Regions from separate parts of the Homo sapiens genome. Here region 1 is reported to be linked to region 2. Evidence: microRNA targets listed by miRTarBase, many of them from high-throughput screens and not tested one by one. Region 2 holds a microRNA gene; the other region holds the end of a gene's coding sequence.

What was found. The annotated mature microRNA hsa-miR-5100 reads UUCAGAUCCCAGCGGUGCCUCU and lies in region 2 at 4,383-4,404, opposite strand. An mRNA with a match to its seed (bases 2 to 7 or 8) in the 3' UTR can be bound and repressed. Matches are read on the target gene's strand: a 7mer-m8 pairs with bases 2 to 8, a 7mer-A1 pairs with bases 2 to 7 and ends in A, and an 8mer does both.
Region 1: the mRNA of CACNG6 is a reported target of hsa-miR-5100. Seed matches in the 3' UTR shown: 7mer-m8 at 6,357-6,363.

Annotation. Positions count from the first base shown.
Region 1 is chr19:54,011,605-54,018,995 of GRCh38, reverse strand. It overlaps CACNG6 (calcium voltage-gated channel auxiliary subunit gamma 6), which reads right to left. Exons shown (of 4, transcript NM_145814.2): 4 at 6,330-7,045. The coding sequence ends at 6,807. Among named protein-coding and RNA genes, the nearest start is that of CACNG6, 24 kb to the right of the region's middle.
Region 2 is chr10:42,994,166-43,002,033 of GRCh38, reverse strand. MIR5100 (microRNA 5100) reads right to left here and starts at 4,471; the gene lies at 4,353-4,471. RefSeq lists enhancers at 814-1,509, 4,104-4,604.

The sequences.
Region 1 (7,391 bases), not on the chromosome of region 2:
TTGCCCAGGCTGGAGTGCAGTGGCGTGATCTTGGAGGCAACCTCCGCCTCCAAGGTTCAAGCGATTCTCCTGCCTCAGCCTTCCGAGTAGCTGAAATTACAGGCACCTACCACCATGCCCAGCTAATTTTTGTATTTTTAGCAGAGATGGGGTTTCACCATATTGGCCAGGCTGGTCTTGAACTCCTGACCTCGTGATCTGCCCACCTCAGCCTCCCAAAGTGCTGGGGCTACAGGCGTGAGCCACCGCGCCTGGCCTCCTTCTAGCTTCTTATCAGGGAGTGATACCCATTTCAGAACCTCCTCATGCTCACTTCTCTTTATTTCATAGTGGTCGTAAACTATTCTTTACCCATGCCTGGACTTTATTTTTGTGGTAAAATCTTACCGTTACTTAAAGCAAGATTTTACCATTCTAACTATTTAAAAAATGTACTATACTTACTGATACTAAGTACATAAGTACCTCCAAAATGTTGTGCAAGCATTGCCACTATCTAGTGTCAGGAAAAAAAATTTTTTTTTTTTTTGAGACGGAGTCTTGCACTGTTGCCCAGACTGGAGTGAAGTGGTGTGATCTTGGCTCACTGCAACCTCCACCTCCTGGGTTCGTGCCATTCTCCTGCCTCAGCCTCCCGAGCAGCTGGGACTACAGGTGCCCATCACCACGCCCAGCTAATTTTTTGTACTTTTTTTAAGTAGAGACGGGGTTTCACCATGTTAGCCAGGATGGTCTCGATCTCCTGACCTCATGATCTGCCCACCTCAGCCTCCCAAAGTGCTGGGATTACAGGCGTGAACCACCGCGCCTGGCCTTTTTTTTTTTTCTTTTTTTTCAAGACAGGGTCTCACTCTGTCTTCCAGGCTGGATTGCAAGGGTGCAATCACAGCTCACTGCAGCCTTGACCTTCTGGGCTCAAGTGATCTTCCCACCTCAGCCTCCCGAGTAGCTGGGACCGCAGGCATGCACCGCCATGCCTGGCTAATTTTTGTATTTTTTTTTTATAGGGAACTGGCTTTCACCATGTTGCCCAGGCTGTTCTTGAACTCCTGAGCTCAAGCGATCTGCCTAACTTGGCCTCCCAAAGTGCTGGGATTAAAGGTGTGAGCCCCAGCACCTGGCCTAGCATCAGAAACTTTTAATCACCCCGAAAGAAAATCTCTCAGATGAGGCATTTAACAAATGTTAGCTATTGTTATTATCAGTAGTAATAGTAATAGGAGAAGGAGGAAGAGGAAGAAGAAAAGGAAGAAAGAAGTAAAAGGAGGAGGAGGGAGGGATGAGAGGGAAAGGGAAAAAAGACGAGGAAAAGATGAGAAGGGAGGGGAGAAAAAGAGAGAGACAGAGAGAGAGAGAGAGAGAGAGATGAGAGATGGGCTGTGTCCAGAGGCTCTGGGGTGCAGGGATGAGAAATTCTTCAGAAGTTGATGATCTGGGCACCCTTGTCATCTCCTATCTTGCTTCCTAGGCTCAGCCCTGCCCACATTCCTTCTGCTAGGAAACCACCCAGGGACTTGCTCCTTTCTGCCCTAACACCACTGTTGCCAGGCAACCTTCTAGTACTTCTCCAGCTGTCATCCTTCATGAAGCATTGGGCCTCTTTCCAATTCCGGCTAAAGTCAGAACCCTCAGAAGAGAAATTGAGGAAGGAGAGATTTCATGAGAGGTTATAAAATTAAAATAGGCTGGACGCGATGGCTCATGTCTGTAATTGCAGCACTTCGGGAGGTTGAGGTGGGCAGATCGCTTGAGCTCAGGAGTTCAAGACCAGCTTGGGCAACATGGTGAAATCTCATCTCTTTAAAAAAAAAATTTAAATTGGCCTGGTGTGGTGGCATGCACCTGCAGTTCCGGCTATTCAGCAGGCTGAGGTGGGAGGATCACTTGAGCCTGGGAGGTCAAGGCTGCAGTGAGCTGTGATCACGCCACGGCACTCCAGCCTGGGTGAAAGAGAGAGACCCTGTCTCAAAAAAATTAATTTAATTAAAATAGCTACTGTTGGAACACTCATACATAGCACTGTGCATCAGCAGCAGCAGCAGCTAATTTATTTTATTTTATTTTATTTATTTTATTTTATTTTGAGACAGGGTCTCACTCTGTCACCCAGGCTGGAGTGCAGTGGCATGATCTCGGCTCACTGAAACTCCATCTCCTGGGTTCAAGTGATTCTCCTGCCTCAGCCTCCTCAGTAACTGGGACTACAGACACTTACCACCATACCCAGCTAGTTATTTTGTATTTTTTGTAGAGATGATGGCCCGGCCGCCTCTGAGACCTTCTAATCTCCTTTAGTTCAAATGCTCCACCTGACAAACGTCATCCTTACTTCGGGGGTATTGTTTTCTGAGCCCCAACAATACATTGTTTCATAGGATGATGTGATTCCAGTCATTTGTCTTTGTGAGGTCTGTAATTCCTTCTCCCACTTCTGATCAATCTATGTTATATCTCTGCCTTCCCCTCCCTCCAGTCTCTCCCCACCCAGAGCTGAAGCCTGAACTGGCCGTGGGGGAACCACTCGGAGTGTGGTCAGGGAGGGTTTGGGGGAAAATTGCCATCTCCCTTTTCTCTTGAGTCTCTGGCTTTGAACCTTCCCTGCCCTGACCCCGGGTAAGAAAGAGTTTTCAGAATGATGACCCCACTGGACAAAGAGCCATTCCCACCAGGTGCGGTGGTTCATGTACCTGGGAGGCCGAGGCAGGAGAATCATACGAGCCTTGGTGTTTGAGACCAGCCTGGGCAACACAGTGAGACCCCATCTCTATTTATTTATCTTTTTTTTAATGAAGAGTGGCCAGGCACGGTAGCTCATGCCTGTAATCCCAGCATTTTGGGAGGCCAGGGCGAGTGGGTCACTTGAGACCAGAAGTGCAAGACCAATGTAGGCAACAGTGGGAGATCCCCATCTCTACAAAAAATACAAAAACTTAGCTGGCTGTGGCTGTGTGTGCCTGTAGTCCCAGGGATTTGGGGGACTGAAGCACGAGAATCGCTTGAACCTGGAAAGTCGAGGCTGCAGTGAGCCATGATTGTGCCATTGCACTCCAGCCTGGGGGACAGAGTGAGACTCCATCTTGAAAAGAAAGAAAGAAAGAGAGAAAGAAAGAAAGAGAGAGAGAAAGAGAGAAAGAGAAAGAGAAAGAAACAAAGAAAGAAAGAAAGAAGAAAAAAGAAAGAAAGAAAGAAAAAGGAAGAAAGGAAGGGAGGGAGGGAGGAAGAGAGAGAGGCCAGACGCAGTGGCTCGCGCCTGTAATTCCAGCAGTTTGGGAGACTGAGGCGGGTGGATCATGAGGTCAGGAGATCGAGACCATCCTGGCTAACAAGGTGAAACCCCGTCTGTACTAAAAAAAAATACAAAAAAATTAGCCAGGCTTGGTGGCGGGCGCCTGTAGTCCCAGCTACTCGGGAGGCTGAGGCAGGAGAATGGCGTGAACCTGGGAGGTGGAGCTTGCAGTGAGCCGAGATTGCACCACCGAGCTCCAGCCTGGGTGACAGAGCGAGACTTCGGCTCAAAAAAAAAAAAAGAAAAAGAAAGAAGGAAAGAAAGAAAGAGAGAGAGAGAGAGAAGAAAGAAAGAAAGAGGAAGAAAGAAAAGAAGGAAGGAAGGAAGGAAGGAAGGAAGGAAGGAAGGAAGGAAGGAAGGAAGGAAGGAAGGAAGGGCCATTCCCCCAAGACCAACTATCTCCGCCACCCCCATGGCAGATGTCTCTTGAGGCTTCCCTGACCTGGCTGGGCACAAAGTCAAACAACAAAAAAAAAATTGTGGACTCTCTTGTCTCCTAGCACTTAACTTGGTTTATAATTGCACGCTCATTACTTCAGTGATGTGATTAGTATCTGTTTCCATCAGCAGGCTGTCAGCTCGTCGTCGGGGGTCCCTGTTTACTCTGTAAGTGCCACTTGAGAAAAACTAACAGCAAAGGCAGATCGAGTTGCGACCACGTGCCAGGCGGTCTCCTGGGAGCTTTGCAGGGCTCATGATGGCGTTTACTCCCGACGGTGACTCCTGGGAGTAGGTACAGGATTGAGCTCACGCACCGTCTTTAGGGATGAAGGAACGAAGACAGAGAGAGGTGAAGCTGTTGCCCCAGCCATAGGTCGGGGAGCTGGGCTTTCACACCAGCCTGGCTCCCAGGTGCCCAGGCACTGCGGGGCACTTCTGCTTGTTGAATGGAAGAATGCAGAATTAGAAACAAAAATCGCATGGTCAGCTGGGCGCGGTGGCTCACGCCTGTAACCCCAGCACTTTGGGAGGCGGAGGTGGGACGATCACTTGAGGTCAGGCGTTCAAGACCAGCCAGGCCAACGTGGTGACACCCCATCTGTGCTAAAAATACAAAAATTAGCTGGGTCTGGTGGCGCACACCTGTAATCCCAGGTACTGGGGTGGCTGAGGCACAAGAATTGCTTGAACCCGGGAGGCGGAGGTTGCCGTGAGCCGAGATCGCACCACTGCCCTCCAGCCTGGGCGACAGAGTGAGACTGCAAAATAAAAATAAAAATAAAATCACATGATCATCTCAATAGATGCAGAAAAAGCATTTTGATATGGGAGGGGGGCAGAGAACTGCTGGGTAGAGAAGGGCAGGGTCTCTGGCAAGGGCTCTACCCTAGGGCCTGTGCCCATGGACCTAAATTAGAACAGGCATTTCCGAAGGTGCTGGGATTACAGATGTGAGCCACCACACCCAGCTAATTTTTGTATGTTTTGTTGTTGTTGATTTGTTTTGTTTGTTTGTTTGTTTTTAGTAGAGACAGGGTTTCACCATGTTGGCCAGGCAGATCTCGAACTCCTGACCTCAGGTGATCCACCCGCCTCGACCTCCCAAGGTGCTGGAGTTACAGGCATGAGCCGTCGCGTGGGGCCAAGACTCACCCTTTTCTTAACACCTGGCAACCACTAGTCTGTCTTCCGGGTCTGCAATTTAGTGACTTCAAGAATAAGAAACCTTGTTTCAACCCCTTGACCTGATGCCAGTGTGTCTCTGCTCAGCAAGCTCCCATGGCTCCTCAGTACCCTCAGGGTAAAGGCCAAGCTGTTCTGTTGAGCATCTGAGTCTCTCCACCTTGTTCATAAGACAGCCCACCCCAACCCTCTCACGTTTCCTGTGTCTCACTCTGAACACCAGCGTTCACATTTCCTCACTCACAGGTTCATCATGTTTTTCCTCTTGTTTCTGTCCAGGCTCTCCCACCCAGCTGGAACGCCCGTGACGTTCTCCACTTTCTCTGATTCTTACTCACCTTGAAGACTCAAGTTCGTCATCTTCTTCGGAAGGCTTTCCTGAACCAATCCCCCTTCCCCCCACCTTTTTGATTTTTTTTTTTTTTTTTTTTTTTTTTGAGACGGAGTCTTGCTCTGTCACCCAGGCTGGAGTGCAGTGGCGAGATCCCGGCTCACTGCAACCTCCAACTCCCAGGTTCAAGCAATTCTCCTGACTCAGCCTCCCGAGTAGCTGGGATTACAGGTGCCTGCCACCACACCCAGCTAATTTTTGTATTTTTAGTAGAGACGGGGGTTCACCGTGTTGGCCAGGCTGGTCTTGAACTCCTGACCTCAGGTGATCCACCCGCCTTGGCATCCCAAAGTGCTGGGATTACAGGCGTGAGCCGCCACACCCGACCAGAAAACACAATTTAGAATATATACACTGTTAATGGTTGAATGTTCTCCCCTACAAAATGTATATATATATATATATGTTGGACCCTAACCCCCAGTACCTAAGAATGTGACCTCATTTGGAGATACGGTCTTTACAGAGATAATCAAGTTAAAATAAGGTCATTGGGGGTAAATCCTAATCACGTATGACAGGAGTCATGTGTAAAGGGGAAATCTGGGTGGGGTACGGTGGCTCACGCCTGTAATCCCAGCACTTTGGGAGGCTGAGACAGGTGGATCACTTGAGATCAGGAGTTCGAGACCAGCCTGGTTAACATGGTAAAACCCCGTCTCTTCTAAAAAAAAAAAAAAAATACAAAAATTAGCTGGGCATGGTGGCTCGTGCCTGTAAACGCAGCTACTTGCGAGGCTGAGGCAGGAGAATCACTTGAGCCCAGGAGGCGGAGGTTGCGGTGAGCCAAGATTGCAGCACTACACTCCAGCCTGGGAGACAGAGCAAGACTCCGTCTCAAAATAAAAATAAAAATAAAAAATATATTGTGTTTTCCACACTCTCAACCATTGTGTATGGGTTCGTTTTCATGTGACTTCTGGGCTTAAAAGTGTTTCTGGAGGGTATGTTTCTGGAGGGAATATGGGGTCACTTTTCTTTACCCCAGAATGCACGATCACATCACAAATAGACTCCAAAGCAAAGTTGTTAAATTTCCAAACCTTTAATCCCAAATCAGATCACAGCGAGGCCAGACCCTTCGCTATCTCCCCCAACCGCACCCGGAGCTGCAGATGAGTTGTAAAAAGTCTCTCCCGGCAAGTGAATCGATCCAGACCTGGGAAATGAAGGGGCCCCCAACTCCCACCCAAGACCCCCTGACCTCATCCCCCAACCCCACACCCCAGCTACCCCATCAGGTCCCCGCCAGTCTTCTCTGGGGACCCTCGTTTGCAAAGAGCCTCTTCCCATCCCACCCCCAAGCAACCCACATACAGCCACAGAGAAAAACGTATTTACAGAGGGAGAAAGGATAAGGGGACAGGAGGCAGGCGTGTAAAAAAACATGGGCCCCCGAGCAGGGAGAACACAGTTTCTCTAGGAGATGGGGCAAAAAGATCTTGGGGGTACAATGGAGAAGGTCAAAGGGCTCGGTGGTTGCTTAGAGAAGTCTCACGCGTGGCTCTAGGTGGCCCGGTGCCCCCGCTTGGGACAGAGGGACCCCCAGGGCCAGGAAGGCAGTGTGAGCAGCAGAAAGCAGCCGGCCCCCAACAGCAGGATCAGGCCGGCCCCCACGCCGCAGCCCAGGGACCAGGAGTACTCGTAGGTGAGGCGTGGGGCCGGGGGAGGCTCCGGGCTGACTCTCTGCAGCAGGGCCCTCACGGAATGCCGGAACACCTCCAGGCTCACCAAGAGCAGCAGGCCTGCGGGAGAGAGGACAGCTCGCAGTCAGACGCCCGCGACCCCAGCTGTGTCTGAACATCTCCGCCATCCGCTCCCAGCCCTCCCGCCCACCCTGGCACCTTCCCACGCGTGCACTCAACAAATACTTACTAAACACCTACTATATAGCAGGCAGCATTTGGGAAGCTGGAGATAAAGAAAAAAAAAAACAAGACACAAAGTCATAGAGACAGAAAGTAGAAGGATGGTTGCCGAGGGCCGGAGGGAAGAGGAAAAAGGGGAGTTGGTGTTTAACAGGTATAGAATTTCAGCTGGGGAAGACGCAAATCGTTCTGAAGGTGGATGGGGGTGATAGTTGCATAACAA
Region 2 (7,868 bases):
GATGGACCCCTGGAGCTCCTGGCGAGGCTCTCCAGGGTCACCTAGACAGTCCCTGACCCACTTTTTCCTGGCTTATGATACTTCACCCCCGGAGGAAATAGGAAAAGAAAGTCAATCCATGGGTTTCTCCTAACACAAAGAAAGCTAAATGCTGTCACTCAGGTGCAAAGTGGCCTGAACATGGGCTTGGAAGCTTTGAAGAAAAGCTTCCAAAGCCACAATGCCTCCTGGAGTCTTTGCTGCTCAGGGCTCTGTCCTTCCCTGGAGCCTGAAGGATGCTCTGTAGAATTCTACTGTCTGCTGCTGGCAGGTCAGGGCTGCCACCTCACTTTACCCAGAGTGACAACCTGGCCAGATGAGGCTGGCTTGGGACATGCCCACCATGCAGGAGCCTGTGGGAGGTGGCGTGGCCCCCTGGGGCGGGGCTGGGTGCCAGCCTGAAAGGCCCATCTTCCAGCAATGGCACCATCTCCTACTGTCAGAAATACAGAAAAACAGGGGTCCTCTGACAACCTTGCAGCTGGGCAGCTCTGCTGTCTCCTTCAGCCCCATGGGGTCCTTGGAGGTGGGCATGAACCACGCAGCTCTGCAGCCTTGCTGGGTGGGGCAGCAGGTACAGGTGTGGGCAGCCTACCAGGGGGTGCAGGGCACTGACGGCACCACGTAGAGACCCTTGCAGGGCTGGGTGTGCCCTGGGTGGTCTCCTGAGGAGCCCAGAGAGTCTGCTCAGGTCCTGACCTGCTCCCGGAGACCAGCAGAGCCTCCCCGTATCAGGGCCCTCTCCATGGAGTCCACTTGCCCTTCAGCACCCACCCCTCTGCCAGCTGCTCCATGCCCAAAGCCTGACTCTGTGACAGCAGCAGAGGCTCCAGTGCCTGGGTGGCCCCTCAGTTCATCCAGGGTGGTGTGCAGGGGGAGGGAAGGGGAGGTTTCCTGGCTGTACTCCTTGGCTGAGCCTGGCTCCTGTTGGACAGTTACCTCCCCTGTGTTAGGTCAGCCACCCCCACCGCCACCCCCACTGCCATCATGGAACTGTCGTTGCCACAGCCATGCTGTCATCCCCCTTGGAGCCTTCCTCCCCTGCTGGGGCCCCACCACGCTCCTGAAGGGCGCTGCACATTCTTCCTCTTGTCACTGTGTCCCTCCACTGACATTAGCCTTCCTGTGTCTGTAAGGCACTGCCCATGCTGGGAAGGACATGGGGGCGCTCCTGGAGGGCAGAGGGCCTCGAGGGGCAGGCCTGGGACCCTTGAAGGGAGGACTGTGAGGCCACGAGAGAAGGTCACGCGGCTGGGTGTCAGGGCCGGTGGCTACACCAGCACCAGCTCCCCAGCCCCGTCCCCTGCAAAATCCAGGCCAGGCGCAAGTTGGGGAGGGGTCTCAGGGTGGCCAACAGCCTGCTCTCTCCAGAAGAGGCTCTGTCTTCATGGATTTCTGGTGGCCTCTCTTGTCTTTTGTCAACCTGTGTTCTCTGTTTATCAATAATATCAATGACACAAATCCCAAGCCAGGGGCTGAATTGCAGCATCTGCTGGGAAACCCGTCCTTCTTCCACTTGCCCCTTCAATGAATGCCATCTGAAAGGAAGGAGCACAGGAGCCTGGGGATGTAGAGGGCCATCATGCTGCCTCCCATGGGCTCCTTCATGTCTGCACCCCCAAGTGGGTTGCAGGGATGCCTGACTGAAGGGGTGCACCACAGGTGTCCTCACACAAAGGGACGCCTGCTCGCAGAGCACTGGAAGGATGAGGGCTCAATGGCCTGGGAGGCCCAGGCTGGCTGTGGGACCCAGGCCCTGATGCCTCCACCAACCCCAAACCACCCCCACTGCCCCTGGCCCCATGGTGCAATCATGGCTGGCTTGGGTATGTATTGGGGATGTGCTGGGCTGGGCAGCCTGGACCCAGGCTCCCCCTAAAATCTAGACTAGAGAGGGGTGGGCGCTGAGCACTGCCCAGTGGAGGGGCCTGGGGGAGCTTCTAGGTGAGGCTCTAAGGCTACAGAGCCTAGGCAGGGGTTCTCAGGAGAGGGCCTGTGGCCAGTCTGAGGTGGGCTGGGCCACAGGTCCCAGGATGGACTCCAGGGAGCACTGCACCTGCCCAGGAGCCCCGCAGGTGAAGCAGCCTCCCAGGCCCTGTGTCTCCCAGGGACTGCCCTGGCCTGGGCTATGGCAAGTCCCGTATGTCTCCTGGAGACATCAGCTCCCGTCTGGGTGGCCAGGCGGACTCACGGGCATGGGCCAGCACAGGGTGTGGCAAGAGAGATCAGCTGGGAGAGGAGAATTGGGGACTGCAGGCCTTGGTGCCTGCTGACCTCCACCCCTCTGAAGAGAGCCTGGCTCAGGGCTTCTGGACTCAAAGGAGGGCAGGCAGGACTCCCCAGTTGTCCTGGGCCTGTGTGAAGGTCCCCCTGGAGCTCCTAGGGGTCACCAATGCATAGCCAGGCAGGTGGTGCACTGTGGCAGCTCCAGGGAGAAAGATGCACTGGACCATGAGGCCAGGCAGCAGGGCTGTGATCAGCAGGAGGGTAGGAGAACAGAGGGGCTCAGAGGTGGACGTCCTATGTGGTTGGCTTGCAGGATCCGGGGACACTTCTGACGCTAGGGGACATGCTGGGGCTGTGGACAAGGATCATGGAGTGGGCAGCCCTTGAAGGCATCTGAGACATGCTGATGACACGACGGGCGTTGGGGGCTGACAGTGCAAGGCAGCCATAGGCCTGTGGCCAGTTCTAGGGCAGCTGTCACGGACAGGCACAGATGTCCTGGCTGGGGTCCTGAGAAGCTCCCGAGAAAGGTTTCCATGGGCCTCAGAAGCCAGGCTGTGTCCCACAGCACAGATGCAGGCCCTGGGCATCTTACCCTCCTGGGTGACCCTGGAGGGGCCAATCACAGGTGGGGCCTGCAGAGACACTAAGGCTTCAAGGCCAGGGCCTCGCGGGCTGCATCCTCTGTATCCCCAGGGCTCCCTGGAGAGTCCTGCTTTCCCACTTCCAGGAGACACATCTGCTAGGCAGGTGTGGTGTTCTGGGCCAGGAGCCTCCCACTTGGCATGTGGTCCTGGGCTCTGGGCTCTTCACCTACAGGTCAAGCCTGGGACCTGTTGTCCATGGCCAGGACTGGCACAAATCTGATCCTTTTGTGGAGGTCAGCAGTCTGTCTTCCAGCTTTTCTGCCACCAGCTAATGCTTATCTGGTATGAGCTGTGCCCGGCATTTGCTGGGCTCTTTACACCCTGAGGAGACTGCTCTCACACCCCTGTTCTACAGGGGGAAACTGAGGCTCACTGGGGGTTTGTGGCATGCCCCCGGCCGCAGCAGCTTGAGTGTCTTAGTCAGGTTTACAACCCACTGGCTGGATCCACAGCTCAGGGAGCCTTTCTCCACAGTGACATAAACTGTGGGGTCACTCCCTCAGCTCATGGCTATGGACCTCACGGCCCCTAAGTGCTGGCTGAGGAAGTACGACCATCCCACCCCTCCATGAGGGTCCCTGCCTGGAAGCACAGGGAGCACAGATGCTTCCTGGGTGCAGCAGCCCTGAGCCATGCCCCACTCTCGGGCTCTGCATTAGTTAAGGTTTTCCCGAGAAACAGAAGTGATAGGATGCGTGTGTGTTTATTAAAGGAGATGGATGGCAAGGAATTGCTTCATGAGATAGTGGAGTCTGAGAAGTCCCCAGATCTGCTGCTGGCCAGCTGGAGCCCCAGGAGAGCTGATGGAGTTTGTCCCAGTCTGAAGGCCAGGGGCTTGACATGCATGAAGAGCCTGTACTTCGGTTCAGGTCTGAAGCCTGGAAAAGACCAAGCTCCCAGCTTAAGGCAGCCAGGCAGAATGAATTATCTCCTACTTGGCCTTTGTGTTCAGCTTAGGTCTGCGACAGGTTGGATGGGTCTACCCACACTGGGAGGCTGTCTGCTTTGCAGTCCATGGATTCAAGTGTTCATCTCACCCAGAGCCCCCCTGACACACACCCAGCATAATGTCTGGCCAAACATCCAGGCCCCCTGTGTGCCAGTCAAGCGGACGTGTGAAATTAACCAATGTGGGCTCTGAGATTCCAGGCCCAGGAGACCCACATCCTCCAGCTTCTGCTGATGTGCCCTGGGGTCCCTGGGGACAGGCTCTGGCTTGGTGCCTGGATGGGGTTGGGGCCACTCAGCAGCATGTCACCTGGGCACGTCCTTCACACCCCAAGCCACCCGCCTCCTCTGTAAGTGGGCTGTACTGCCTTAACTGATGACCCCTGCAGCTGCTCTGAAAACTGGTCCCAGTGGAAGTGACATGAAGACCACCTCCTCAGGTGTGTCCCTGTTAGCTAAGACCAGATGAGGATGCTGGGACTGGGCAGGGTCAGCTGACTGCCCAAGGTCCTGTGGCCAGTTAGAGGCACCGCTGGGATCTGAACCCATGTGGTCTAGCTCCAGAAGCCACGCTCCTACCCCCAGGCCATCCCACTGCCAGCTCCTCATGGCTGTTTCTGAAGGTGATGGAGGGACTCACCAGCCCAGGTTCCCAGGACTGTCTGGGCTTTGTGGCAGGAAACTGGGGCAGAGCAGGGGCCTCCGGGTGGGAAGGATGACCCTTTCCCAGCAAGACAGGACCTCGTCTCTTGCTAGAGCCCAGCTGGGGTTAGGTTTGGGATAGTGTGCTCAGGACATGTGATCAGAGGGAAGCTGGAAAGCTCTGAAGGGGGAAGGCTCCCCACACATGGATAATCCCTCATACAGAGACCCCAGACTCAGCATAGGATCCCAGACAGAATGGCCTTCACACGCTGCCTGGCTCCTTCCAAAATCAATACAGGCTCTTAAAATGCTGAAATAGTTCTGGTGCATGCTGAGATTTGTTGGACTGAGTTTAAAATCCTGGTGTGTGTGTGTGTGTGTGTGTGCGTGCGTGCGTGCACTGAGAGTGCTGGTGAGCTTGGAGAGGTTCCAGTCTTAAAAAGGACCCTGGCCCCGAGAGGCCACCTGACCACCAAGAACAGCCCGTGTAATTCTGGAAGGTGGATTTGGGATTCCTGCTTTCATGCCCTGAGGGCCCCTGAGGGCTCAGGACTGAGGGACAGAGGCTGCTGGGATGAAAAAGGTGCATCCCTGGCTGGGAAACTCCAGGCTTGGGTGGGCTTCTGCTGAGACCCAGCTCCATGCAGAGGTTCATACTGCCTGTGCCTCAGGGACCAGCATATCCACCTCCTGTCATCCAGTTGAGGCCTCAGGGCTCCCAGGGAAAGGAGCAGGGTCCCCCCAAGCCCAGGATACCAGGACCAGCCGGGCTCCAGCCCCACCCCTCCTTGTGCATTTCTGCCCTCCCAGGCTTCCCTGCGCCTTCATTACCAACCTTGTCCTCAGCAACCACGGCTTGTAAACCATATTCCACGTGCTTGGGTTTTCCCTCTGGACACACAGGCTCTGAGAAGATGGTTTAGGCAGTTCCCAACTTCACGATCACAGCAGGTCCTGCCAACCCACCCTGGACCGTCCCTAGCCTGGACCAGGGACACCCCACCCATGGGAGGATGGGTTGGAGCTGTCCTGGAGCTAGGCTGGACTGGGCCCTGCAGCCTCCAGGCAAATGCCTTTTCCTTTACAAAGCTGGTAAAGTGCTCTAGGTCACTCACCCTTGGAGGATCTCTCTGCTGCTTCATCATCTGGGAGTCGCTGTCTCCATTCCCAGGGATTCTCTGTGTCTTTAAGTCTAAGTTGGGGATTGGCCCGGCCACACCAACTTTCATCCCATCCGTATTTACACTCCACGGCTTTCCACACCCTCTTGCCTTCTACCTTTCTATACTTCACTGTGACCTCTGTAAGCAACGTCTGACACAAGACTTTGCTTTTGTGTCCAATCTGACAGTCTCTGTTCAGTACATTCATGGTTACTGTTTTCTCTGGATCTAGGAAAATTTATTTCCACCACTTATTTTTTTGTCCTGGCTTCTGGACTTCCATTTTCTCTCTCCTTTCCTAACTTCTATTAGAAATACTCAATTTTCTGTATTCTTTTTCTTCTTCCCAATTGCTTGGAAGTTATGGTAGGCTGATCATGACTCCCACAGATACACCCATGTCTAATCTGGAACCTGTGAATATCACCTGTATTGCAAAAGATGTGATCGAGTGAGGGACCTTGAGAGGAGGAGCATGTCCTGGGTCATCCAGGGCCCTAAATACCATGTATCCTATAAAAGAGAAGCAGAGGGAGTTTTGACCCAGACCTGCACAGGGGACAAGGCCCTGTAAACAGAGAGCAGGCATTGGAGAGACATGGCCCAGCTCAGGAATGATGCCAGCTGTGGGAAGCTGGAAGAGGCCAGGAAGGCTCCTCCCCCGAGCCTCAGAGGGAGCATGGCTCTGCCTCCTCCACACCTTGATTTCTGTCTCCTGGCCTCCAGGATTGCAAGAGAATACATTTTTGTTGTTATAAACTACCAGACTTGTGGTAACTTCTTATAGCAATCACAGGAAACTAACACAGAGATCATATTTTCTATTTCTTTAATAAATTGTCCTAAAGTTTTAATACCTGTGCTAGAAAGGCATGCTCCTTGTGTAGACACAGCCCGTGTCTCCCCCTGCTCTTTGCCCGGTACTGGGCATGCTAGGCTTTGCTGTTTGGAGTACTAGCCTCACCCTGTTTGTATGGCCATAAATTAATTATTACTTTTCTTTGAATTGTCAAGGCTTTATTGGATCTACCTACAGATTTACCAACTTTGCTCACCATTGCTTCTTTAAAAAATGGTTCTTTTTGTAGCAAAAGATATACATCACAAAAATGCCATTTTAACCATTTTAAGTGTATAATTCACATTAATTACATTCACGATGTTGTGCAACCATCACTGATATCTACTTCCAAAACTGGAACTCTTGTGCACTGCAAACTTTTTCACCATCCCAAACAGATAATCTGAACCCATTAAGCAATAACCTCCCATCCCCCACCCCTAGCCCTTGGTAACCTCTAATCTGCTTTGTCTCTATAAATTTGCCTAGTTTAGATCTGGAATCCTACAATATTTGTCCTTTTGTGTCTGGCTTATTCTACTCAGCATAATGTTTTCAAGGTTCATCTCTGTTGTCATGTGTGTCAGAACTTTGTTCCTTTGTGCGGATGAATCATATTCCGTGTGGTGGAGCACGCTGTATTTATCCATTCATCTGTCGGTTGACTTTTGCCTGGTTTCCATCTTTTGGCTTTTGTGGATGATGCTGCTATAAACTTTGGGACACAAGCATTTTTTGATTTCTTGTTTTCAATTCTGTTGAGTATATACCTAGGAATGGAATTATTGGGTCACAATTCCATGGTAACTATACATTTAGCTTTTTGAGGAATGACCACACTATTTTACACAACAGTTATACCACTTTCCATTTCCATCATCAATGCACAAGAGTTCCAGTTTCTCCACATCCTCACCAGCAGTTGTTACTTTTAGCTTTTCTGATTATAGCCATGCCAATAGGTGAAGTGATGGTGGCTTTAATTTACATTTCTCTAAAGATTAGTGATGTTGAGCATCTTTTCATGTGCTTATTGGCATTTGTGCATCTTCTTCAGAGAAACATCTATTCAAATCCTTTGCCCATTTTTATTTTATTTTATTTTTATTTTTATTTATTTTTTGAGACAGGGTCTCATTCTGTCTCCTAGTCTGGAGGGCAGTGGCATGATCTCACTGCAACCTCTGATTCCCAGCCTCAAGTCATCCTCCAGCCTTAGCCTCCAGAGTAGCTGGGATTACAGGCATAAGCCACCATGCCTGGCTAATTTTTGTATTTTTTGTAGAGATGGAGTATCACTATGTTGCCCAGGCTGGTCTCAAACTCCTGAGCTCAAATGGACCCGCCTGCCTTGGCCTC